4 linked regions of the Homo sapiens genome follow. The protein of the gene in region 2 interacts with the protein of the main gene of each other region in a pairwise test. Each region holds a gene or a part of one and is shown on either strand. Other genes may lie near its edges.

Region 1 (7,030 bases), on a different chromosome or scaffold from region 2:
GAAGAAGCATCCAAGGAACCAGCTTTTGTATTACCCTCCTGGAAATGAAAAATGCCAGGGTATTTAATGAAAGAAGGGATCCTTGGGAGCCAGAAGATTCACATGGACATGAAAAGGTACCAAACCCATCCAACTGAGTTTGTCCGCAAGCTCTGGGCAAGAGGCAATCACAGCTTTCTTCAGCCCATCATCTGTGCGTGGTTCTCTGCTAGCCAGTGTTGGCAAATCAAACAAAGGCCCAAGACTGAGTTTCTTATTCTCCTTGGTAATTAAAATGTAAATGCTTCTTAATGCTCTCATCATATGAAAAGGCTGGAAGATGCAATCCATTTCTAGAAAGTCTTTCTGTCAGCCAATTAACCCTATGTATCAGGCCCAAAGAGTGTTGCAAGAGGTTTCTACTTTTTCCGTCATGTCACTTTCCTGTTCAGAGTCACCTCAGAAGAACAAAAGACAGTCCCTTCTCTCAGCTCTTCCTTGCCCATGGCAACCTCACCCCCAGTGCAAGCAGTCAGGCAGTCACTGGAATCCATCCACTTTCGCCTCCATGTAGTTGGAAGAGATTTGAAAGAAACAAGCCTTTCTCAGGCCCACCCCATAGTGATGCTCTAAGATAAACACGTCTGTTTCTTGCCAGTTATGACCTAGCTGGTGCAAAATTAATCTTGGTTTTTGCCATTGAAAGTAATGGTAAAAACCACAATTACTTTTTTTTTTTTATTATTATACTTTAAGTCCTAGGGTACAGGTGCACAATGTTCAGGTTTGTTACATATGTATACATGTGCCATGTTGGTGTGCTGCACTCATTAACTCATCATTTACATTAGGTATATCTCCTAATGCTATCCCTCCTCCTTCCCCTCACCCCATGACAGGCCCCAGTGTGTGATGTTCCCCTTCCTGTGTCCAAGTGTTCTCATTGTTCACTTCCCACTTATGAGTGAGAACGTGCAGTGTTTGGTTTTTTTGTCCTTGCGATAGTTTGCTAAGAATGATGGTTTCCAGCTTCATCCATGTCCCTGCAAAGGACATGAACTCATCCTTTTTTATGGCTGCATAGTATTCCATGGTGTATATGTGCCACATTTTCTTAATCCAGTCTATCATTGATGGACATTTGGGTTGGTTCCAAGTCTTTGCTATTGTGAATAGTGCCACAATAAACATACATGTGTATGTGTCTTTATAGCAGCATGATTTATAATCCTTTGGGTATAACCCAGTAATGGGATGGCTGGGTCCAATGGTATTTCTAGTTCTAGATCCTTGAGGAATCGCCACACTGACTTCCACAATGGTTGAACTAGTTTACAGTCCCACCAACAGCGTAAAAGCGTTCCTATTTCTCTGCATCCTCTCCAGCACCTGTTGTTTCCTGACTTTTTAATGATCACCATTCTAACTGGTGTAAGATGGTATCTCATTGTGGTTTTGATTTGCATTTCTCTGATGGCCAGTGATAATGAGCATTTTTTCATGTGTCTGTTGGCTGCATAAATGTCTTCTTTTGAGAAGTGTCTGTTCATATCCTTCACCCACTTTTTGATGGAGTTGTTTGATTTTTTCTTGTAAATTTGTTTTAGTTCTTTGTAGATTCTGGATATTAGCCCTTTGTCAGATGGGTAGATTGCAAAATTTTTCTCCTATTCTGTAGGTTGCCTGTTGACTCTGATGGTAGTTTCTTTTGCTGTGCAGAAGCTCTTTAGTTTAATTAGAACCGATTTGACAATTTTGCCTTATGTTGCCATTGCTTTTGGTGTTTTAGACATGAAGTCCTTGCCCATGCCTATGTCCTGAATGGTATTGCCTAGGTTTTCTTCTAGGGAAAAACCACAATTACTTTTACACCGACCTAATATAATGTACAGAATCACTAGTTGAATCACCTTTCCTTCTGTGTCCTATAAAGGGCTCTTTTCTGTTAATCTTGCTTGGCCTGGATTGTTCCTTGTTCCTCCCAAAAAAGGGGGTGGGTGAACATCTCATTCAGGAAGAGGTATATATTGTGGAAATTAAAGAAATAGGAAAAAGTTGCATATGTTGAAACAACATTTGACAATGCTTTATAGTTTACTGAGCATATGCATTTTCTTTTCTTTCTTTCTTTCTTTTTTTTATTTTTTATTTTTTTGAGATGGAGTCTTGCTTTGTTGCCCAGGCTGGAGTGCAGTGGCGTGATCTGGGCTCACTACAACCTCCACCTCCCAGTTCAAGTGATTCTCCTGCCTCAGCCTCCCAAGTAGCTGGGATTACAGGCAGCTGCCACCACACACTGCTAATTTTTGTATTTTTAATAGAGGTGGGGTTTCACCATGTCGGCCAGGCTAGTCTCAAACTCCGGACCTCAGGTGATCCACCTGGTTCGGCCTCCCAGAGTGCTGGGATTACAGGTTGAGCCACTGTGCCTGGCCGAGCATATGCATTTTCTTATGTGGCATCTGTGCTGTGAGAATAAGTTTCCATAGGCCTGATATTAGCCTGAATTTTTCTGCTGAAGTTCGTGAACCACACTGACCCCTAGTCAAGGCATGAAGCATGCTGATTAATAGTGTTGCTTTGGCTAGGTGCGGTGGCTCACGCCTGTAATCCCAGCACTTTGGGAGGCTGAGACGGGCAGATCATGAGGTCAGGAAATTGAGATCATCCTGGCTAACACGGTGAAACCCAGTCTCTACTAAAAATACAAAAAGTTAGCCAGGCGTGGTGGCGGGCACCTGTAGTCCCAGCTACTAGGGAGGCTGAGGCAGGAGAATGGCATGTACCCGGGAGGCGGAGCTTGCAGTGAGCAGAGATCGCGCCACTGCACTCCAGCCCGGGGGACAGAGCGAGACTCCGTCTCAAAATAAAAATAAAAATAAAAAAAGTGGGCCGGGCGTGGTGGCTCACGCCTGTAATCCCAGCACTTTGGGAGGCCGAGGCGGGCGGATCACGAGGTCAGGAGATCGAGACCATCCTGGCTAACACGGTGAAACCCCGTCTCTACTAAAAATACAAAAAAAAATTAGCCGGGCGAGGTGGCGGGCGCCTGTAGTCCCAGCTACTCGGGAGGCTGAGGCAGGAGAATGGCGTGAACCCCAGGGGGCGGAGCCTGCAGTGAGCCGAGATTGCGCCACTGCACTCCAGCCTGGGCGACAGCGAGACTCCGTCTCAAAAAAAAAAAAAAAAAAAAAAAGTGTTTCGTTGTAACCGTGGGTCCTAGGAGTTTCTGAATGGTTTGTAGCAGCTTGTAAGCGTTGTTTATTGATAACAGTGGGATTGATTATTTGCACCTGGTCTCAACGAGGACCTTCTGTGGGTTCTGCCGTTGAGGCCAGTTATAGAACAAGAATATGCCTACAGCAAAATAGAAAAAAATCCCAGTAAAGACTCCATAATTCCAAGATATTTGTGCATACATTGGCTGTTCCTGATCCAAGACAGTGCATTCTTCCGTCCCATAGAGAAAAGACAACAGTAAGAGCCTAGCCTGCACCTGGCCTCTGTGGATCTCCTGCTGAGGCAGCCTTCAGCTGTAGTGCATATCCTTACTTTCATGTTGTTGCTATGCTGTATCCGTTTTCTGTAATAAAACTGTAGATTTATAAGCATTGTCACTTGGGTCCCATGAGTCTTCTTTAGCAAAGGAACCCTGTTTAGTGGCTACTGTTAATGTAGCACCATAGCCCTGAGAGACAGAGTTGACAGGAACCCCCAGAGAAGTCAAGGGACCAGCCTAAGGTCACACAGTCAAGCAGTGGCAAAGCTAAGACTTGAAGCCAGGGGTCTGATTCCAAATCTCTCGTTCTTTTCACAGAACTGATTTTGTTCACTGCTGTTTGATTAGGTACTAGAGAGAATGAAGAGGTAGCTATTGAGTGATGGTCTCAGGGAGTCCTGCTCTGTGTATTGAAAGCAGAGCTCTAAGTTAGAGCAGCTACACCCCAAGAAGAAGATGGCATCACCCCACATTCTTGACCCGCATCTCCACTTTCAGTGTCAAAGGTCCAGGGTGGCCAACTTCCTCCTCTCTGAGACTGTGGAAGGCTTAATTATCCCAACATAGGCTCCCAGGGAAGCCCCATTGGTCCATTTCTGGAGAGGCAGTGATTCAAGGGAGACAAGTGAGCACATCCTGCATCCAGATCTTAGCCACAAGCAAGATGTTTCAGTGGGCGCCATGGCTGACAATAAATCTTTTGCATGCTCTTTCTTTTCCAAAGTACGTGCTTCAAGCAATTCTAATTTGATTCTTAATTAAGATGCATGTGTAAGTCAAATTCCATTAGAGCCTCCTTCTTGCTCTCTAGCACTCAGACCACCAAAGAAAGCCTGGAAGACCAGCCATGGAAGGAAAGTATGCGGTGTTTTAGGGAGAGCTGGCACCTGGCCTCTAATCTTCCCTCTGCCATTGACCAGATGGGTGCCTTTGGATACATCACTTAAGCTTACCTGTATAACAGATGGGTTTAACATTTTGTGAATATTGTATCTTATTCATTACTCTATTTTTAGGGTATGGACCCTAGTCACTTATTATCCTTGCTATTGCTATTATTACTACTACTACTTCTTTTACAAATAGCAATAGAGCTGGAGAAACCGGATTTTGAATTAAGGTCAGGAGAACCCAGCTTGGCTATCTTTTTAAAAAAATCAGTATCCCCAGCACTTTGGGAGGCCGAGGCAGGTGGATCACAAGGTCAGGAGATCAAGACCATCCTGGCTAACACGGTGAAACTCCGTCTCTACTAAAAATACAAAAAAATAGCCAGGCATGGTGGCAGGTGCCTGTGGTCCCAGCTGCTCAGGAGGCTGAGGCAGGAGAATGGCGTGAACCCGGGAGGCAGAGCTTGCAGTGAGCCAAGATCGCGCCACTGCATTCCAGCCTGGGAGACAGAGCGAGACTCCATTTCAAAAAAAAAAAAAAAAATCAGTATCCCTAGGACTGCCTAGGTCTGCCTCAAAGGACTGCCTAGGACTGCTAGGTCTGCCTAGGTCTGCCTCAAAGTTTTAAGGATTCATTTGCATGACCCTGGCACACACGGCCTTGCCCTGGGAAGAGAGGCCACCTGAAAAAATGTAGATCATTTCTAGCAAGAATATCGGCAGAAAGGGCATATCCAAGGACAGTCTGGCTTTCACCATACATGGGACAGGCGGTTCCCAATAAAAATTGCTTGAGAGTCACTGGCTATATCCACTTCTTCAAAAATATCTCTCACTGCCATTCAAAATATGACCATTCAAGGAGGACGATAAAAAACACTCTGATTTAAGGAGACATCATGGAGCTGTCCTTGGAGTCAGATGCCTAGGATTGGAATGCTGGATCTTTCATGGAATTAGTCTCTCAGACCCAGGAATTATCAAAGTTATGATCAATTCAAGAAAATCAGTGGATATACTTCTAGCAAAGCAAACCAGGAGCTATCAGCAGGCAATATTTGGGGAGCATGGCTTCTCTACAGTCCCCAGCTCCCCAAAGGAGCTGCACTAAGGTTGGGAGGCACAGTGATCTCTCCACTCGGGGTGAGGCTGTGGAGAGCCCTGAGTGGAGCTTAGCAAGTCCCTTCTACCTGAGCTCACACCACGCTCACACTCCAGCACAATTCTTCGTGTTGTTCCAGAAACAGCCTCTTACAAATCACATCATCAAGATCTAACATCCAGGTTAAAGGTCAATTTCTTACCAGCCCCCACAGCCATGTTGTTGCAGTGTCCCAGGGTGACTGAATAACTATGATGCATCCTATGTGCATGGTCATGTGACAGGCATGGAGTGACCGACTGTCTGTAGTAGGTATGTGTAGTCTGTTAGGTACAAGATCCAGATACCATGAGCCAGGGCCCTCCATGACTGTTCCCTGAGTGGTATAATCTCAGATGTGTGCAATGGTGACAGCAGTATAATCTCAGATGTGTGCAATGGTGACAGCAGTATAATCTCAGATGTGTACAATGGTGACAGCAATACCTATGTCGGAGGATTGTGCTGGGATTAAGGGGATCAGGCAGTCAAGGAGCTAGCATGATGCCAGCTGAGCAGGTGCTTGATAAATGAAATGGGTACTTATTTTAGTCTATTCGTTTGGGCTAGGCACGATCTTACCCTAGGCTATTATTGAGAAAAACATAGCAAGTTCTAACTTTGCTTGTTGCCTGGAGGGGCACGAGTCACTGGAGAGGGTTGGAGGGGGCAAGGGAAGAATATGGGTGAGAATGTGGGCATCCCATGAGACAGATTGCCAACTTTCCATTTCCTGTACAGCTGTCCTTGTCTTGCTAAACAGTGAGGGAACACTCTCATGAACAGCTCAGAGAGGTATGCATTTGCGAGAAAAGAGAATGGGAGGGAATTATGCCCCAAATACCCAACCCATCAAAGCAATAGAGTATTTTGCTCATTTTGAAAAACTGTTTTTGAGAGCTTTGTCTCTAAATACTCCAACCATACTCTTTCACTCCTGGTTTTTACCATAAGAATGCTATAATATCAAAGTCAATTGTAATAGATTTTTAAAAATCTATTCATATTCGCATCACCCTAAACTTCAGCTGTTTTGATATTTCTGAGTCCTTGCACAGTCCTTGTCCATAAAACTTGATAATTCTGCGAGCGACAATAACTTATGCATTATGCATTTTAGCCTCTAAACTAAATAAGATGACTTTAGATTTTAAAAGCTTGTATCAGTGAATGTGCTTATATTTCAATTTTTTCCTCTTTTCCATTTACTCCTCTGCACTCACCCCACCCCGCACCAACTGAAATAAAACATCCTGGTTTGTTTGTTCCTAGAACATTTATACCTTTCAGTGGGACAGAACCTTCTACTGTCCCTACCCACTCCGTGCCTCCTACTTGTTCAGGGTTTTCTTCTCAGGGTCTGATGGTGGCTGAGATTGGGAAGCTGGCTGGGAAGGGGGACCTGTGTAAATCTTGGCTCTGTTATTTATTATTTGCTGTGTGGATTTCAGCTCAGTTTCCCCATCTGTAAAATGACATTAATACCTGTCTGAGAGGAGTGTTTGAGGAGTAAGTGAAATA
Region 2 (7,331 bases):
TTTTGTATTTTTAGTAGAGTCGGAGTTTCACCATGTTGGCCAGGCTGGTCTCGAACTCCTGACTTCAAGTGATCCGCCCGCCTCAGCCTCCCAAACTGCTGGGATTACAGGTGTGAGCCACTGTGCCCAGCCAGAGACTGGAAACTTTACCCCACCTTGTCCCACCCCCTCATCTTCCCACAGGGACTAACCATGGTGGTGGTGGTAGAGAGTCACTTACATGGCTCTGGTTTCCCGATGTCCTCTTGTGGCTAAGGATGTCGTGGGCGGCACTCAGCATCACCACATAAGAGAAGTTGTTGCAAAGGCCCAGCAGCCTGGAAGGAGCAGGACAGGTCTCAACTCCCTCCTCATCCTGCAGCCATCTGTAGCCTTTGTGCCAAACCTTCCCTTACCTGTGCCCTTCAATCAGCCCCCTCTTTTTTTTCCCTCTATCACCAGATCCCATCCTCATTCAATGTTGGGGTCAAAAATACAGGCTTTGGTGCTTGGGCAAGATAGTGAGACCCCCATCTCTACAAAAAATTTAAAAATTAGCCAGGTGTGGTGGCTTGCACTGTAGTCCCAGCTACTTGGGAGGCTGAGGTGGGAGGATTGCTTGAGTCCAGGAGTCAGAGGCTGCAGTGAACTGTGATCATGCCACTGCACTCTAGCCTGGGTGACAGAGCAAGACCCTGTCACAAAAATAAAAAATAAAAAGGAAGAGGCCGAGTGCAGTGGCTCACACCTGTAATTCCAGCACTTTGAGGGGCCGAGGCGGGCGGATCGCCTGAGGTCAGGAGTTCGAGACCAGCCTGAGCAATATGGAGAAACCCCGTCTCTACTAAAAAATACAAAATTAGCTGGGCGAAGTTGCACATGCCTGTAATCCTAGCTACTCAGGAGGCTGAGGCAGGAGAACCACTTGAACCCGAAAGGCGGAGGTTGCAGTAAGCCGAGATTGTGCCATTGCACTCCAGCCTGGGCTACAAGAGCGAGACTCTATCTCAAAAAAAAAAAAAAAAAAGGAGAGTGGTCACAGAGAGTTTCTGGGAGAGGCCTTGGAGGCTGGAAGTGAATCCAAGTCTGTGATCCCAAAGCCCCTATGTCAGGGCGGGGCACGGTGGCTCACGCCTGTAATCCCAGCACTTTGGGAAGTGGAGGCAAGCGGATCACCTAAGGTCAGGAGTTCTAGACCAGCCTGACCAACATGGTGAAATCCTGTCTTTACTAAAAATACAAAAAATTAGCTGTGTCTGGTGGCACGCACCTGTAATCCCAGCTACTCGGGGAGCTGAGACAGGAGAATAGCTTGAACCTTGGAGGTGGAGGTTTCAGTGAGCCGAGATTGTGCCACTGCTCTCCAGCCTGGGTGATAGAGTGAGACTCTGTCTCAAAAATAAAATAAAATTAAAAAAAAAAAAAAAAAAAGCTGGGCGCGGTGGCTCACACCTGTAATCCCAGCACTTTGGGAGGCCGAGGCGGGCGGATCACGAGGTCAGGAGATCGAGACCATCCTGGATAACGCGGTGAAACCCCATCTCTACTAAAAATACAAAAAAATAGCCGGGCGTGGTGGCAGGCGCCTGTAGTCTCAGCTACTCCGGAGGCTGAGGCAAAAGAATGGTGTGAACCTGGGAGGCGGAGTTTGCAGTGAGCCGAGATTGCGCCACTGCACTCCAGCCTGGAGGACAGAGAGAGACTCCGTCTCAAAAAAAAAAAAAAAAAAAAAGGTTCAGGCCCGGCATGGTGGCTCATGCTTGTAATCTCAGCACTTTGGAAGGTTGAGGTAGGAGGATCACTTGAGGCCACGAGTTTGAGACCAGCCCAGGTCCCATAGTGAGACCCCCATCTCTATAAAAAAATATAAAAATTAGGCAGATGCGGTGGTGCACACCTGTAGCCACACCTACTTGGAGGCTGAGGTGGGAGAATCACTTGAGCCCAGGAGTTCCAGGCTGCAGGGAGCTGTGATTGCACTACTGCATTCCAACCTGGGAAACAGAGCAAGACCCTGTCTCAAAAAGAAAAAAAAATAAGATAAAATAAAATAAATTAAAAAAATAAAAAAGTTTTAGTAGTGATGCATTTATTTAAACGTTCACTAGGAAAACGCTGGTTTTCCAAGTGGAGTCGTGATTTAAAGTTTTCTTTTTAAAAATATGTGCACTAAAAAACGTTAAGGCTGAATTGGCTGGAAGAAAAAAGTAAATAATCCTACAGGTGGTAGGTATGAGGATCTTGCTAAATCCGGAAGGTGATAAGGAGTGAAGTTTGGAAATTTTACATGCTGCCCCTGGGGCAAACCAGTGGATTCAGTAAATATTTGTGGGTTCAGCTCCTTTGCGCAGCTTAACTCTTTCTTCCCCCTTTCCTCCGGTCACTTCCCTCTTCTCATGCCATTGTCACTCGCTGAAGTCTCAGGCCACTCACCAGAAGCCCACCGCGTTCTTCCAATGCGCGCCCTGATGGTCCAACAGAGGGAGCCGGGGCTCCGGGACGGTCTCCTCCCCTGGGAGAGCGAGAAGAGGGCATGACCCCCACCTACTCTCAGGTGCACGACCGCTCCTTGCGTGTCCTCCCGGGGCCGAGTCAGCTCTCATTCCCCTCAGGTGGGCTGCGAGCCAGAGGTGGTCGTTCCATGAGGGTGGGCGGGAATACTCACCCTCGGAATCCGAAAAGCGCCGCCGCGAGCCTGCACAGCCTCCCATCGCATCAAGTTCAGGTCCCCCGAGGGTCCAGGGTCATAGAGTGTCCAAAGGGGGCTCCCACGGGAGGGATGAGGGTCTGCGACAGGTGACAAGGATCAACGCCCGATTGCCGGTCCCAGCTCCGGCTTGTCTAGGGCACTCGCGCCCCGCGATCCATCAAGGAAGCTGGGGGCTCCATCTCGAGCGCCCTACGACCCACCACGCCCCACCCATCGTACTCTCCCCCGCCCCGTCTACAGCAGGGACCCTGAGGCCTGTACCTTTAAGAGCAGCAGAATGTTCTGCACTATGCAGAGGCCGTTTGTCGGATCACGTGACAGCACCCGCGTGTTCCCCCATCACGTGCTCAGAGGTTTTCCCTACTTCCGGGTCCTCTCTGTCTTCGCTTTGGGCCTTCTCGGCTTCGGAGCGTGAAAAAGGGAGGGGCTGGAGAACCCTGGAACCGCAGGTTTTAAACTGGAGCGGGTGGGAGCAGCAAGCAGAGCCGTGACCTTAGATCAGTGGCGCCCAAGACCGAGACAGTAGCCTGCCAGCACCAGTTATGACTGTGGGAGGCTTCAGCTCCTTTCCTTCAGCACTCACTTGCCAGAAACAAATATGGCCACCTGCCTACTCCCTTTTTTTTTTTTTTTTTTTTGAGGCAGGACTGTTTCTGGTTGCGAACAAAGACGACCAGCTTCAGGTCATTCTTATCCCCATCTGTTGACCTTACAAATTGTTTTAGAGACCTAAGTAAACATAACACTCATCTAAAGGGATTTCGTGAATGATCTATTGGCAGTATCCAAGATGTTAAGAGATCCCTATTTCCAAATTATCCTAGAACCAAAAAATATCACAGCACTTCAACCCCTGGTGTTACAGATGAGAAAACCAAGGTACAAATATATATATATATATATATAACAAAATTAGCCGGGCATGGTGGCGCATTCCTGTAGTCACAGGTACCTTGGAAGCTGAGGTGGGAGGATCACTTGTGCCCAGGAGGTTGAAGCTACAGTGAGCTATGATCACGCCACTGCACTCCAGCCTGGGTGACAGAGTGAGATCCTGTCTCAAAAAAAGAAAAAGTAAAAAATAAAATAAAAAAAATATATGTATATGAAAAAAATTGGAAAGTTGCTGACAATCATTCATACAATGTTAGACCTAAAGGTGACCTTAGAGACCTGTATGGTGATAAGAAATAGAGCACCAGAGGCAGGGAGCCATTGGGTTGGCTCCAGGCTGCTGCAGGATTCCTGCCTCCATCAAAGGTGGTGCTTAGACCAGATTTTTTTTTTTTTTTTGACAGGGTTTTGCTCTGTTGCCCAGGCTGGAGTGCAGTGGCAGGATCTTGGTTTGCTGCAACCTTGACCTCCCAGGCTCAGGTGATCCTCCCACCTCAGCCTCCCGAGTAGCTGGGACAGCAGGTGCGCACCACTGTGCCCAGCTAATTTTTGTGTTTTTTGTAGAGACTGGATTTTGCCACGTTGCCCAGGGTGGCCTCAAACTCCTGAGCTCAAGCAATCCACCTGCCTTGGCTTCCCAAAGTGCTAGGACTACAGGCGTGAGCCACTGCACCTGGCCAGACTAAATGATTTTAAGGCCTAAGATTCTGATGCTGTGATTTCATAGAATTGCCCTAATTGGAATAGGAAAGTGGGGCTGGGGAGGGGAGAAGGAGGGTATGGGGAAGAGAAGTAGAGCAAGGTCACTTTATGTAGTTCCAAATAAGGAATCATACCCTTACCTTCTTCTAGGTGGAAAGCGGCATCCTGCATTCTCTTCTTGTCCTTGGCCTCATCTCTGCTATGGGCTGTGCCACCTCTATATGCTCTTTCTCACCACCAGGCCTTCAGAATGCAGTTGGAAATGTGCCCTCTCGTCTGGGTGTGGTGGCTCATGCCTGTCATCCCAGCACTTTGGGAGGCCAAGGTGGGCAGATCACCTGAGGTCAGGAGTTCGAAACCAGCCTGGCTAACATGGTGAAACCCTGTCTCTACTAAAGATACAAAAATTAACCAGGTGTGGTGGCACGCACCTGTAATCCCAGCTACTCGGGAGGCTGAGGCAGGAGAATCACTTGAACCCAGGAGGCAGAGGTTGCAGTGAGCTGAGACTGCGCCACTACACTCCAGCCTGGGTGACAGAGTGAGACTGTCTCAAAAAAAAAAAGAAAAGAAAAGAAAAGAAATGTGCCCTCTCTAGTGTGCCTCCCAGGTCACTCAGCTGATGGAAAATGGAATCCTACTAACGTGCAGGGCTCTAGAAATTCAGCAGCGTTTCATACATGGCATCTGCCATCAAGGAAGTCACAGGAAGGTGGGAGGCAGACACAGATATCCACAATATAAAGTTTAGCCAAGTTCTTTTTTGCAAGCCTAATCATAGGTGAGGGGATGCACCCCAGAGCCACCAATCCGGCCCCTTCCGCCCCTGGGGGAAGCATTAATGACGCCGAAATGTGTCAGAGCTCCCACCAGCCCCCTCTTCACTGCTACTCTTTCTTCCCAGGCAAAACAGGAACCACAAACCCCAGCTTCCTCTTGCAGAGTGGCTGTGGCTTGTAGGGGAGGCAGAAATGGCTGAGGTGCGGATACGAGACCTGAGTCACTTGAGCTGCTGTTGCCACATGTCCCCTCCCTCTCCCCCTCCCCAGTTCTAAGGTCTCCTGCTCCCACTTTGTCCTTTCTGGCCTCTTGCTTGTCCTTTATTTCCAAATGTGCACCTGAGTCCCCTGTGTGATGTACACCCATTTCCCGGGCTGCAGTGGGGGCTACTGTGGGCATCAGGGGCCGTGGGCAGGGCCTGGGGTGGGGACGCATCAGGGAGACAGGGGAAGAGGAAGTGCCTTTGGTCCTGGGGAAGGTTGGCTTGTCTTGGTGGGTGGGGACGGTCATTATCAGCTTTCTGGACACACAGACAGAGACAGACAGGATGGACTTCCTCCGGCTATACCTCCCTGGGCTGCACCAGGCCTTGAGGGGGGCACTGGTGAGAAGGGCAGACAGCTGCCAGATACTTGCACCCCATTCCCTGGGGCCTCACTTCCGGGCACCTCCCCTGGGGCCTCACCTTTCCCCTCCTCCTTCTGATCTCCTCAAACTGGAGATTGCTTTCTCAGGTTCAGGCAGACTCCTGGCCTAATATTTTCTGAATTTCAGTCCCCACCTCCAACCATGCGTCCTCGTACCCCTAATCGATGCCCCTTCTGGCTCCTTCTGCAAATCCTCTTCTTCTCCTTTCAGATCCCAGTACCCTCTTCCTTAACCTGGGCTCCTCCAGCCAGGGCCCCCAGGGAAAGGGCTGGGACTCTCCTCAATGACTCTCCCCTCTCTCTCTCTTTTTTCCTAGGATTCCCTCGGCACCTTTGTCTCCTACCTCCTGGGAGATGCAGTCCCCACTGTAGAGCGGGAGGCGCAGGCGGCTGAGGAACTGGGGGTGGTGGCGGTGGGAAAGACAGGGAAGATTGTAGAGGAGGAAGCCCAGGAGGACCTGGAGGGCCTTAGAGGCAGCCAAAACGAGGGGGCTGGAAGGCTGAGAGGGCCTGGAGATGACAGAAGACATGAAGTGGGGAGCTCAGCTGTAGAACAGACCTGGGGCTGGGGAGATGGCAGCTCCCATGGGTCCCAAGCAGAGAGGCAGGACAGTGGGGCTGGGGAGACAGCCAAGGCTGCCAGGTGCCAGGAGCCAAGCGCCCACTTGGAGGCCAGAAAGAAATCCAAGGCAGGGTCTGGGGCTTGCCAAGACAGGAGCGGCCAAGCCCAGGAGAGGCAGGAGTCCCATGAGCAGGAAGTGAACAGAGAAGAGAGGCTGAGAAGCTGGGAACAGGAGGAGGAGGAGGAAGAGGTCAGGGCAAGAGAGCCAGGGATGGCCAGAGGGGCGGAGTCAGAGTGGACCTGGCATGGGGAGACGGAGGGGAAGGCTGGTGCTGTTGGGCCAAAGGCGGCAGGGGACAACCGGGAGATGGAGCAGGGGGTCAGGGAGGCAGATGCAGGGGAAACTGAGGAGCCTGGGGCCGAAGGGGCTGGGAAAGGAGAAGAGGTGGTAGTGGTGGAGAAGGCCTGTGAAAGCACTAGGGCATGGGGGACGTGGGGCCCAGGGGCAGAGCCTGAGGACTGGGGAATCTTAGGCAGAGAGGAGGCCAGGACAACCCCAGGTAGGGAAGAGGCCAGGGCAATTTTAGATGGGGAGGAAGCCAGGACAATCTCAGGCGGGGAGGAGGCTGAGACAGCCTCAGGCGGGGAGGAGGCTGAAACAGCCTCAGGCGGGGAGGAGGCCGGGACAGCCTCGGGAGGGGAGGAGGCCGGGATAGCCTCAGGCGGGGAGGCTGGGACAGCCTCAGGAGGGGAGGAGGCCGGGACAGCCTCAGGAGGGGAGGAGGCCGGGACAGCCTCAGGAGGGGACGAGGCCTGGACAACCTCAGGCAAAGAGGAGGCTGACCTGCTGGGAGTCAGACAGACAGAATATGGAGCAGTCCCAGGAGAAAGGCTCCTAGAGGCTACTGGAAAAGTCTGGGTCCTAGAGGAGGAGGGGGATGAGGAGAGAGAGGCTGAGGTGAGCCCTTTCCCCAAACAGCCCCAGGTCCTGGGCACTGAAAGAACAGAAGAGGCTGCTGAGAGCCAGACCGCAGGGAGGGAAGCTGTGGGAGGCCAG
Region 3 (5,437 bases), on a different chromosome or scaffold from region 2:
ACAAATATGTATATAGGACTTTCTTCTTCCTATCCAAATCAAACTTTTAAAGACAAAACTTGAGTTTTTAAAGGGTCATTTTAACACTTCTTTTTGAATTTTTTAATTTATATATAATTCACATACCATAAATTTCACACTCATAAAGTATGTACACTTTAAGTGGTATATTAACAAAGTTTTGGAACCTTCCCTGCTACCTGGTTCGAGAACATTTTCATCACCACAAAAAGAAAGTCAGTATCCATTAGTAGCCATCCCCCATTTTCCCCCCACAGGCCCCTCCCAACCACTAATCTCCTCTCGTTATGGACTTCTCAATTCTGGACATTTCATATAAATGGAATCATACAATATGTGGCCTTTTCATGGTTCATACATGTTGTAACCTGCATCAGCATGTCATTTCTTTTTTATGCCGGAATAATAGCCCACTGTACGGAAAGAAACACATTTTGTTCATTCATCTATCAGTTGATAGACATTGGGTTGCTTTCACTTTTGAGCTATGATGAGCAATGCTGCTATAAAATTTCTTGTATGTTTCTGTGTAGACATATGTTTTCATTTCTGTATACCTGGTGACTACCAAACCTATTTCTAAAACAGCTGCACCATTTTACTTTACCACCATCAGTGTTTAAGAGTTCAGTTTCTCCACATCCTCAGTAATACTTGTCATTGTCTGCCTTTTTGATGATGGCCATCCTGGTGGTATCTTGTCGTGGTTTTGATTTGCATTTCCTTAATGATGATTTGAGCATATTTCCATGTGCTTATTGGTGCCTCGTCTGTCTTCTTTTGAGAAATCTCTGTTCAGGTTCTTTGCCCACCCCCCCCGCCCTCTTTTTGCAAACTCTGCCTCCCGGATTCAAGCAATTCTCCTGCCTCAGCCTCTTGAGTAGCTGGGATTACAGGCGTGCACTACCACACCCGGCTAATTTTTCTTTTTTTGTATTTTTAGTGGAGACGGGGTTTCACCATGTTGGCCAGGCTGGTCTCGAATTCCTGACCTTGTGATGCACCCGCCTCGGCCTCCCAAAGTGCTGGAATTACAGGCGTGAGCCACCACACCTGGCCTTCACTTTCTTCATAGTTTTTTGAAACACAAAAGCTTTTCTTCTTGATAAGTCCAATTTTTCTATTTTTTTTTTAACGGTCACTTATGTTCTTAATGTTATACCTAAGAAACCATTACCTAATCCAACTACATGGAAACTACTTTGTTTTTGAAAACCTTATGAAATAATATAGTAGAAGAAATTGCATTCTCGATTTTGTCTTGGTAGGCTTTGGAAGTGATAAAGCAGTTAAAAGAGAAAATGAAGATAGAACGTGCTCACATGAGGCTTCGGTTCATCCTTCCAGTCAATGAAGGCAAGAAGCTGAAAGAAAAGCTCAAGCCACTGATCAAGGTCATAGAAAGTGAAGATTATGGCCAACAGTTAGAAATCGTAAGAGTCAAATATTTTCTTTGCTTCATGTTACCTAAATATTGTATTCTCTAGTAATAAATTTGTAGCAAACATTTAGATGTTGTAAACGTCAGATATTTTCTTTTCTTTTTTTTTTTTGAGATGGAGTCTCGCTCTGTTGCCCAGGCTGGAGTGCAGTGGTGCTATCTCAGCTCACTGCAAGCTCCGCCTCCCGGGTACACGCCATTCTCCTGCCTCAGCCTCCTGTGTAGCTGGGACTACAGGCACCCGCCACCAAGCCTGGCTAATTTTTCGTATTTTTTAGTAGAGACGGAGTTTCACCGTGTTAGCCAGGACGGTCTTGATCTCCTGACCTCATGATCCACCTGCCTCAGCCTCCCAAAGTGCAGGGATTACAGGCGTGAGCCACCGCGCCCAGCCAGATATTTTCTTAAGACTAAAGGTTGGTCAGCCTTGTTTACCACAAATCCTTTTATTTTTTTCCCAGCATTTATTTTTGTCATATATTATGCGTAGTGTTTTAGATACATGATTTTAGCAAATTTAGCAACTATTTAAAATAAGCCACTTAAAAATTGCTATTTTAGTGGAAGATTGATAATTCCAATTACCTTAAAAATTTTGCAAAAATTAGTACAAAGCACACTATGGAAATTTACATTGAGTTTTCAGAGATAGCTCAATTGCATGCTTTACTCCAGTGCTGATCATAATCCTAAAAGACAATCCCAAATGCCACAATCCCAATGTTGAAATCATAAAAAAATCAAAATCTCTAAAGTCCAAAGCCTGAACTTCTAATATCTTGAAAATCACAGTTCCAAAAGATTGAATCCTGGCTGGGCGCGGTGGCTCATGCCTGTAATCCCAGCACTTTGGGAGGCCAAGGCAGGTGGATCACCTGAGGTCGGGAGTTCGAGACCAGTCTGACCAACATGGAGAAACCCTGTCTCTACTAAAAATACAAAATAGTCTGGCGTGGTGGCACATGCCTGTAATCCCAGCTACTCGGGAGGCTGAGGCAGGAGAATCACTTGAACCTGGAAGGCAGAGGTTGCGGTGAGCCAAGATTGCACCATTGCACTCCAGCCTGGGCAACAAGAGCGAAACTCCATCTCAAAAAAAAAAAAAAAAGATTGAATTCTGAATGATGAAATTCTGAAAGCTGAATTCTGGCAAAAGGATTAGCACTCTTTGAGTTGTATGCAGGATAGTCGCGTCTGGTTAATTGCATCATGTGAGGAAAAGCTAGGACCTTGTTATTGTCTTCATTTGAAAATTAAAAATGGTTTAAAGAGATGAGTCTGGGTGCCAAGTTGATAAGGGGTGGAATTGTGGATGTAATTTTAGGTGTCAACTTGACTGGAAAGGAATCCCTAGAAGCCTGATAAAGCATTGTTTGGGGTATGTCTGTGAGGGTGTTTCCAGAGGATATTAGTGTGTGAACCTGGTGACACTAAACACAGAACATTTTAAAGAAGCAGCGAAACCATTATGTCCTTATGACCTCACCCCACAGCTTCAAACACAGTGTAAATTGAGCTGTCTACAAATTCATGTTTTCAAGGCTTTGCAGCTTATTTATTTATTTATTTATTTATTTATTTTTGAGACAGGGTTTCACTCTTATTGCCCAAGCTAGAGTGCAATGGCGTGATCTCAGCTCACTGCAACCTCTGCCTCCCGGGTTCAAGCGATTCTCCTGCCTCAGCCTCCCGAGTAGCTGGGATTACAGGCATGTGCCACCTCGCCCAGCTAATTTTGTATTTTTAGTAGAGACGGGGTCTCTCCATGTTGGTCAGGCTGGTCTCGAACTCCCGACCTCAGGTGATCCACCCGCCTCGGCCTCCCAAAGTGCTGGGATTACAGGCTTGAGCCACCGCGCCCTGTCTGCAGCTTCTTTTTAAAAGTAAATGAGCTGTAGAGAAGTGTTGAGTATGTGAGTATCCACTGTAGATGTGAACTAACTCATCTGACACTACTTGAAGTTCTAAAATCTTTGCAAAACTGTACACATGGGCCAGGCACAGTGGCTCGTGCCTGTAATCCCAGCACTTTGGGAGGCCAAGGTGAGCAGATAACATGGTGAAACCCTATCTCTACTAAAAATACAAAAAATAAGCCAGGTGTGGTGGTGGGTTCCTGTAATCCCAGTTTCTTGGGAGGCTGAGGCAGGAGAATCACTTGAACCTGGGAGGCGGAGGCTGCAGTGAGCCAAGATCACACCACTGCACTCTATCTCAAAAAAAAATAAATTAACATACACATGGTGTCTACATAAGTCTTCACATTGCTTTTTCTCCTTCATACGTGGAGGTGACTTTACTGAGCTATAAAATGTAATGCTAAATTTTAGTATGAGAAGAATCAGAGTTTTCTAGTTTGTCCCTTCCATTTACAGCTGAAGAATCAGAATAAGTGTTTAAACATAGGGATTAATGCCTTGTCACAGGGGGCTACATGGACACTTGAGGGCAGAGGCTAAACTGGAACCCAGTGTGCCGCCCTACCCATTGTCTTATCTATTGCACCATAGAACTGTGGTATTATTAGAGATCTGGACAGCATTGTGCTTGCCTCAAAGGAAGTTAAAGCTGAGTTTATTCTGTGTCTTGCTCATCCTCATGTGGTAATCTGCTACGTTAAATGTTTCAGGTATGTCTGATTGACCCGGGCTGCTTCCGAGAAATTGATGAGCTAATAAAAAAGGAAACTAAAGGCAAAGGTTCTTTGGAAGTACTCAATCTGAAAGATGTAGAAGAAGGAGATGAGAAATTTGAATGACACCCATCAATCTCTTCACCTCTAAAACACTAAAGTGTTTCCGTTTCCGACGGCACTGTTTCATGTCTGTGGTCTGCCAAATACTTGCTTAAACTATTTGACATTTTCTATCTTTGTGTTAACAGTGGACACAGCAAGGCTTTCCTACATAAGTATAATAATGTGGGAATGATTTGGTTTTAATTATAAACTGGGGTCTAAATCCTAAAGCAAAATTGAAACTCCAAGATGCAAAGTCCAGAGTGGCATTTTGCTACTCTGTCTCATGCCTTGATAGCTTTCCAAAATGAAAGTTACTTGAGGCAGCTCTTGTGGGTGAAAAGTTATTTGTACAGTAGAGTAAGATTATTAGGGGTATGTCTATACAACAAAAGGGGGGGTCTTTCCTAAAAAAGAAAACATATGATGCTTCATTTCTACTTAATGGAACTTGTGTTCTGAGGGTCATTATGGTATCGTAATGTAAAGCTTGGATGATGTTCCTGATTATCTGAGAAACAGATATAGAAAAATTGTGCCGGACTTACCTTTCATTGAACATGCTGCCATAACTTAGATTATTCTTGGTTAAAAAATAAAAGTCACTTATTTCTAATTCTTAAAGTTTATAATATATATTAATATAGCTAAAATTGTATGTAATCAATAAAACCACTCTTATGTTTATTAAACTATGGCTTGTGTTTCTAGACAACTTCCTAACTCCCTTTCTTTTCTCTGCCTGTGTCTGTGGTAGGGTTAGGGAGTTGTCAGGAGAACTGAATAAGTCCATATGAAGAGTGCTTAGAACAGGGCCTGTACTTGTAAACACCTGAAAAATTTTTGCTAACACTTGGGATGTAATTGGGAAGAATTATTTTAGTATTTAAACACTTAAATGGACAAGATGCAAGCTTTTAAAAATCTACTTCAAGGCCAGGGGAGGTGACTCACACCTGCAATCCCAACACTTTGGGAGGCCGAGGCAGGCGGATCACCTGAGGTCAGGAGTTTGAGACCAGCCTGACCCACATGGTGAAACCCTGTCTCTACTAAAAATACAAAAATTAGCCAGGCATGGTGGTGCACGCCTGTAGTCCCAGCTACTCGGGAGGCTGAAGCAGGAGAATCACTTGAACCCAGGAGGCAGAGGTTGCAATGAGCTGAGAATGTGCCACTGCACTCCAGTCTAGGTGACAGAGTGAAACTCGGTCTCCAAAAAAAAGAAAAAAAATCTA
Region 4 (7,030 bases), on a different chromosome or scaffold from region 2:
GCAGACCTGCTCTGTCAGCCACTCACCCAGAGGCAGCCTCGCCTCGCTGGCCTGGGAAGGGCTGGCTGGGGCTCCTGGACTCGGCCCCTAGCCAGACTCAGCCCCTCCCTGAACTCTGTCCCCTCTGCCAGCCCAGATGAATGGCTGTGTGTGTGTGTGTGTGTGTGTGTGTGTGTGTGTGTAGCAATCTGTTCACTTTTTGCAAATCTATTTTTTAAAAGTTTCTTGGAGGCTGCTCCTGGCAGGATGGAGGTTTCTTGGGGGTGGAGGTGGCTGTGGCCATGCACTCCTTTGGACGTGTCCTAGATGACATTCTCAAACAGCTGCATGGAGCTCATGATGTTCTCATCCTGCATGGAGAGAGGAAGGGAGGCCTTCAGGTGCTGGGTGGGCTCCAAATCCGACCCCCTTGAGCAGATTCCCGCCAGGGACTCGGAGCCTGCAGCGACTGCCTGTCTGTCTGTCTTATTGGGTGCAGGGAGCTGGGGGACAGGGAGGTGAAGTAGCTGGTCCGAGGTCCCCAGCTGGTGAGGCACAGCCTGTCTTCAACCCCACTCCTGACTGCAAGCCCATCTGGGATGAGCTGATGAAGGCGATCCCGGCTGGCCTCCAGAGGAGGTGGGCGCTAACCAGGACTGCTCTGGGAGTGGGGCAATAGAGGCGCTGGAGGCCCAGCATCCTGCCCCCTGAGGTGCTCTCTGGAAGGGCCAGCAGCAACACTGCGGAAGCTCTGGTGCCTCCCCACGGTGACCCTCTCCCTCTGGCTGGCCCCATGTCTGCCCCTAACTTGAGGTTCTCCAGGGACTGGGCTGAGGGAGGGTGTGGGGGTAGTGGGGGGATGCTGTGGGCTGCAGGGGTGGGTGGGGAGGAGGAGACTCAGACAAGAGGGCAAGTGGAGCTTGGGGCTGTCCAGGAGGTGGCAAGGGGCCAAGGACAGCTGCCACATCCTGGACTGGCAGGGGTGGGACTGGGGTGAGGGAAGGGGCAGACGCTGCCAACCACCCACCTCCGTGTAGAGCCTGCAGAGAACTGTGGCCCAGCCTCCCGTGCCACCTACCTTCTGACAGGCCTCCAGGAACTCTTCAATGGTCACTACCCCATCCTGGTTCCGGTCCATTTTCTGCAACCCAAGCCATGCCCAAAGTGAGTCTGTGCCCCAGCAGAGACAGCCCCGCCCCTGGCCTGAGGACGCAGAAGTCATGGGTGGGTGGATGGGCGGGTGGGTGGATGGGCGGGTGGGCTCCCTCCACTCTAACTTGTCCCCTGTGACTACTCTGGATCCAGGCCACATAATCCACCCTTCATAGCCACCTCCCAACCAACTGCTGAGGCTCCAAGCATCTCCCCACTGCTCCCCTAGGCCAATTCCCTGAGCCCTCCTGGGCTTGGGTTTCCCAGAATTTGTCCCCATGCTCATCTGACCGCCTCACCTCCCTGAGAGGCAGCCAGGGCAGAGGGAGCAACTGAGTCACAGGATGGCCCATGTCTAGTGGCCCCAGCAAGTAGGAGGCAAAGCCTGCAGCCCCTGCAGCCGCCATGCATACAGGTGAAGGCCCCCAACCTGCTCCTCTCCCAGAGCGTCTTCCTGGAGGAGCCACACAGCTCTCAGGAGGCATGGAGCTCCGGCCCAGGGTCAGCTGCCTCAGGATCCCCAGCTCTGGCCCCCAGATGAGGTCCACAGGGCAGAGCAGTGGTGTAGTTCACTTCTCAGGGGTTCTGACAACCAGCCAGACTGGAGGGGCAAGTTTAACCTCCTCATGGGGAGTAGGGAGGCTCAGAGGGGCAAGCCACTTGCCCGGGGTGGCCCCAAAAGCGAGAGCCCCTTCCTCTGCCAGGCTCCCCTCCCTAGGCAGGGCTGGCGCTCGCTCACCTCGAAGAACCTCTCCACGTGCTCCGCCGGCGCGTCCTCCCGCAGGATGGGGTAGGTGTGGCGGCCCATCATGTCATAGATGGACTTCATGATGGCCAGCATCTCCTGGAGGGGGAGGCTGGCATGAGCCTGCTGCAAGGCCGGGGTGGCTGTGAGGGCCCAAAGGGAGCGGGCGGCATCCAAGGGTGCAGGGCACCTCCAAGGCAGTGAGTGCGAGGGGCCGGACGAGCTGGAGAGAGAAGCCTGTCCGCTTCCAGGGCACCCAGAGCGAGCTTCTGACTCTAGGGGAAGCTCATCTCCCAGAGAAGTGGGAGATGGATTGCTATGTGCTTATCTCCAAAATGTGACGCGGCAGCAGAAAAAGTGCTTGGACCAAACAAAACCTGTCTGTGGGCCCATGTGCGAGGGCTCCCCTCTCCACCCATGCCTTAAGGGACCGCACTGCCCCCTTCACTTGATGGGGGCCAAGGCCAGGACCTCTGGCTTCTCCACTTAAATCTCCCCGAGGCCTTTTGTGTAAGACAGTATGACCGAGAACACTTGCTGAGCTGGACCGAGATGTGTGGTACAGGGTACCTGAACCCACACTCCACACCGGGGTGTCCAGGACCGAGCCCAGGAGAGGAGAGCCCACTGGCTGCTGTCCCTGGGGCCAGTCTCTGGATGGACAGCGGGAGAAGACAGGTGGGCAGCAGGAGCAGGGAGAGGAAGAGCGGCGGGAGGGGTGGAGCAGCAGGAGGGGAGGAGGGGACAATCCCTGCCCCCAGCCCCCTACTACCTCTTTGGTGATGTAGCCATCCTTGTTAATGTCGTAGAGATTAAAGGCCCACTTGAGCTTCTCGTGGACTGTGCCCCGCAGCAGGATGGAGAGGCCAACCACAAAGTCCTATGGGGAAAGGAGAGTGTGGGGCGTGACATCCAATCAATGCCCAGGTTCTAGTTCCAGTTGCTGTGTGGCTTCCACTGAAATTCACGCCTCCAACAGGCACAGAGCCTCCCTAAGAGACTGACGGCATCCATTCAGGTCAGCACAGGGTGAGTGTGTGCCCGTGTGTGAGCGCATGCACGGGTGTGCACCTGTGTGTGTGAACTTGTGTGAGGGTGTGCACCTGTGTGAGAACTTGTGTGAGGGTGTGCACCTGTGTGAGGGTGTGCATCTGTATGTGTGAACCTGTGAGGGTGTGCACCTGTGTGTGCACCTGTGTGAGTGTGTGAACCTGTGTGAGTGCATGCGCATGTGTCTGCATGTGTGGCAGGAGTGGCATGGTAGCTGATACTGATGCCAGAGAAAGATATTCAAATATATATGGTGTCCTAGACCCATTTAATGCAGTGCTGCCGCTGGAGACGCCTGGGGTACTCTTTTAATAAAGGAGGTGCTCTATGTTTATTCTGCCAAGCATCTGCATGGCAAAGGTGCTTGAAAACTTCCAGATTAAATAGCTAGAGGAATGATGCTCAGCTTTTTGTTTGTTGTTGTTTTTAGAGACAGAGTCTCAGACTGTCACCAGTCGCCATCATGGCTCACTGCAGTCCCAAACTCCCAGGCTCAAGCGATCCTCCACCTCAGCCTCCTGAGTAGCTGGGACCACTCGGAATAATCCATGCCTGGCTAATTTATTTTATACTTATAGAGATGGGGTCTCGCTATGTTGTCCAGGCTGGTCTCCAACTCCTGGCCCCAAGTAATCCTCCTACCTTGGGCTTCAGAAGTGCTGGGATTACAGGTGTAATCCCAGGGCCACCTCGCCCAAACCTGGTGCTCAACTCTTGAGTCATGACATGCTGTGTGTGGCCATCGCCTTTGGCATGGGAAACTTTACTACTAATATGACAGAATATGGCTGTTTAAATGGTTTCCATGTGACAACTTCAACTGTTTTGTTACAGCAGTTGGTAGAAAGCAGGTTTTCCCCCTACCTCTTGGAAGGTTTAAAGGTGAAACCCTCCCTGCACCCTGGGGTCCTCCCAGGCTACTCTGAAAGAAAGGGGTGAGAAAGGGGCTGTACCAGCGAAGTGGGACAGAGGACGGTCAGAGTGCAAGGGACAGGGCCATGCACCAAGGCCCCGAGGCCCCTCAAGTGTTAGATTTTCGGGACTGGAAGAAGTCTGTACCATGAGAGAGACAGAGACAGAGGAAAGCGATTTGGAAGAACAAAAATTATCCCAGGAGAAAAAAATTTGACAACAACTATTAGGTTCAGAGATTACAAATCTTCCATCACTAAAATAAGAATAGGATGTCCCAAAAAAGAGGTAACTGGAAAAAAGAAAGAGCTCTTGGAAATTAAAAATAAGAAAGCAAAATGACAGACTTAAAAAGAAAGGTTGGGAGAGCAAATGGAATCTTCCATGAAGTGGAATGAGAAGGCAAATAGCTGGAATATAGGGGAGAACAGAGGATAATGAGAGTTGCACTCCAGAGGGGCCAATGCTGGGACACAGGCAGTTCGGGAAGAACGGGAGAAAACAGAGGAAAGTGGGTAGGAGCAATCAGGAAAGACGATTTCCCAGAATGGAAGCAGAGATTTCCAGTGTCCACCAAGGCTTGGCACAATGCATGAAAACAGCCTGCAGTTTAGCTGCAAGCATAGATCATGGTGAAATTTCAGCAAATTGGGTGCAGAGGATCCTATAAACTTTCAGAGAGGAAAGCAAAGCCAAACAGAAAAAGCAAAATCGGGACCCATCACGGGTCAGTGTCAGCAGGGGCACCTGCTCTGCAGCAGCGCCTGAGGCAGGAGGCCCAGGGAACGAAGCGACCCCCAACTTTGAAGGAGAACAGCTCCCCCTGGGGGTGCTGGTCCCTACAATGGATCAAGCAAGAGTAAAAACAGAATAAAGACACTCCCAGGTGCTCAAACGCTCCAAAGTTACAGCTCACATCCTCTTTTATAGGAAGCAGCTGGGCAGTAAGCCCCTGAACACACAGAGAGTAAAGCAAGAGAAAGGCAGATCAGGGATCCCAGAACCAGAAGGCCCAGCCCAGCAGACAGGGGAGGAAGCCCCAGAGGCACCAGGCCCCAGCGAGGATGGAGCTGTGGGAGGCTGGTGGGGGGGCCTCCTCTGGCAGATGCCGGGCAACAGGTTCAGATGACTGGAGAAGGGCCTGGGCTTGAATGAATAATGAGGTCACAGAACACAGACAAACTAATCATCAGGACCAATGTTAACCGTAGGCAAAGGAAAGGAAAAGATCATCGCAATGGACAACAAGCCTCAGCGAGGGGTCCAGTTCACAAATCAGAGTAAACCAAGGCCTTATCCAACCTGAAGCCTAGAGTCTGTTGGAAAGCTGAACTCCTGGGCTCAAGCGATCCTCCCACCTCAGCCTCCTGGGGGATGGGTGGGGGGCTGGGGGGACGGGAACGTTGTATGTCTGAGGGAGTCCCAAATTCTCACTTGTGGCAGGGGGTGGAAAAGTGGAAGCAAGCTTCTGGGGGACATGGAAACAAGCACAGGTGACTGGCTACAGCAGACAAGGTGGTGGTCACCTGCTGGTTTTCCAACGTGCACCCTGCGAATGTGTTGGACTCCAGTCATGTGTGTGTATAACTGAAGACAATGAATATATATATATATATGTGTGTGTGTGTATATATATGTGTGTGTGTGTATATATGTGTATATATATGTGTATATAAATATGTGTGTATATATGTGTGTGTGTGTGTATATATATATATGTGTGTGTGTGTGTGTATATATATATATATTTTGTTTTTGTTTTTGAGATTGAGTCTCACTCTGTCACCCAGGCTGGATGGAGTACAGTGGTGCAATCTCAGCTCACTGCAACCTCTGACTCCTGGGCTCAAAGTGATTCACTTGCCTCAGCCTCCCAAGCAGCTGGAATTATAGGCACCCGCCACCATGCCCAGCTAATTTTTTTTTTTTTTTTGTATTTTTAGTAGAGACGGGGTTTCGCTATGTTGGCCAGGCTTGTCTCAAACTCCTGACCTCAGGTGATCTGACCGCCTTGGCCTCTCAAAGTGCTGGGATTGCAGGCGTGAGCCACCGAGCCCGGCCAATGAAAATATTTTAAAGAAGCAACACCCAGGTGTGGTGGCTCACACCTGCAATTCCAGCACTTTGGGAGGCTGAGACAGGAGAATTGCTTGAGGCCAGGATTTCAAGACTAGCCTGGACAACATAGTGAGACCTTGCATCTACAACAATTAAAATAAAAAAATTAGCTGGGCATGGTGGCATGCACCCGCAGTCCCAGGTACTCGGGAGGCTGGGGTAGGAGGATCACTTGAGGCCAGGAGGTCGAGGCTGCAATGAGCTATGGTGGTGCCACTGCACTCCAGCCTGTCTAAAAATAAAACAAAAAAAATAAAAATTAAAAAACAAGGAGAAACATTGTTATATTTCTACTATGCCCAAGTTTAGGGAATAATAATCACTGAAGCTTGGGCATGGTTTACACAGTAGTGAAGATTCTAAGTTATCCCTGAAGCCCTGGGTCAGACAGGCCTTCCTAGTGGGTAGCAAAGGCGTGGAGCACACCGTTCTCCTGGGGACCCTGGGCAGGCACCGCTGTCCTCCACCTTATCTTCAGCTGACATGGGCCCCTCAGGTGGTCTGTCTGTCTGCTGCGGAGAAGCCCTCATGTTCAGCCACAGAGCCTGCTGCTAGCAGCTGAGGAATGTCCCTATGCAGTATCCCTTAGCCTCTCTCTGTGTGTTGGCTACAGTAGTGACAGTACTAGGAGATGGTGGGAATGTCCTGTTAGGCCACTGGCTAGTCTCCATTCATAAAGGTAATACACAGATGACCCCAAGTCCAGCCAGCCCATGTCTGAGTGCACGCTGGTTCTAAATTCCTTGGCCATACACAGTGCAACCATGGCAAGTTGTAACTCCATGCTCTGAATGCCAAAGTGTAGGAACCCTGTCACATCCACAGCCTCTGTTCTACGGCTGTCCCCATGGCAGGGGCTAGGCAGGGTGAGGGCTCCAGTGACACAGCATACTTCCAGGTGAAGGTGCACAAGAGTGCACAGGAGGGTCTCCCGGCAGAGCCCGGAGCAGGTGCTCAGCGAGGGGGTGGGAGTCGCATGTGGTTGCTGGGCTTGCAGGCTGCCCTCACACGGCCCTGGATGCCGCTTGGCCACTGGCACATGGAGCAGTTTACTGTCGGGGGAGGTAACAGAGA

What was found.
Region 1: the proteins of CLN3 (region 2) and CDHR3 interact in binary tests that used the Homo sapiens proteins (3 or more experiments, as listed by UniProt).
Region 3: the proteins of CLN3 (region 2) and SBDS interact in a two-hybrid assay, tested with the Homo sapiens proteins (one study listed by BioGRID).
Region 4: the proteins of CLN3 (region 2) and KCNIP3 interact in a two-hybrid assay, tested with the Homo sapiens proteins (one study listed by BioGRID).

What each region holds. Positions count from the first base shown.
Region 1 is NC_000007.14:105,966,246-105,973,275, forward strand, and holds part of CDHR3 (cadherin-related family member 3 isoform 1 precursor), read left to right. Parts: intron 1-7,030. UniProt on the Homo sapiens protein: Cadherins are calcium-dependent cell adhesion proteins.
Region 2 is NC_000016.10:28,489,070-28,496,400, forward strand, and holds the start of CLN3 (battenin), read right to left. Parts: upstream 3,006-7,331; 5' UTR 2,951-3,005; exon of another isoform or gene 2,767-2,950; 5' UTR 2,691-2,766; coding exon 2,645-2,690; intron 2,492-2,644; coding exon 2,413-2,491; intron 318-2,412; coding exon 221-317; intron 1-220. Other genes in the region: APOBR (apolipoprotein B receptor), read left to right, coding at 5,613-5,669, 6,030-7,331.
Region 3 is NC_000007.14:66,987,154-66,992,590, reverse strand, and holds the end of SBDS (ribosome maturation protein SBDS), read left to right. Parts: intron 1-1,289; coding exon 1,290-1,454; intron 1,455-4,091; coding exon 4,092-4,220; 3' UTR 4,221-4,911; downstream 4,912-5,437. UniProt on the Homo sapiens protein: Required for the assembly of mature ribosomes and ribosome biogenesis.
Region 4 is NC_000002.12:95,377,322-95,384,351, reverse strand, and holds part of KCNIP3 (calsenilin), read right to left. Parts: intron 2,757-7,030; coding exon 2,649-2,756; intron 1,976-2,648; coding exon 1,871-1,975; intron 1,121-1,870; coding exon 1,058-1,120; intron 351-1,057; coding exon 303-350; 3' UTR 1-302. UniProt on the Homo sapiens protein: Calcium-dependent transcriptional repressor that binds to the DRE element of genes including PDYN and FOS. Affinity for DNA is reduced upon binding to calcium and enhanced by binding to magnesium. Seems to be involved in nociception.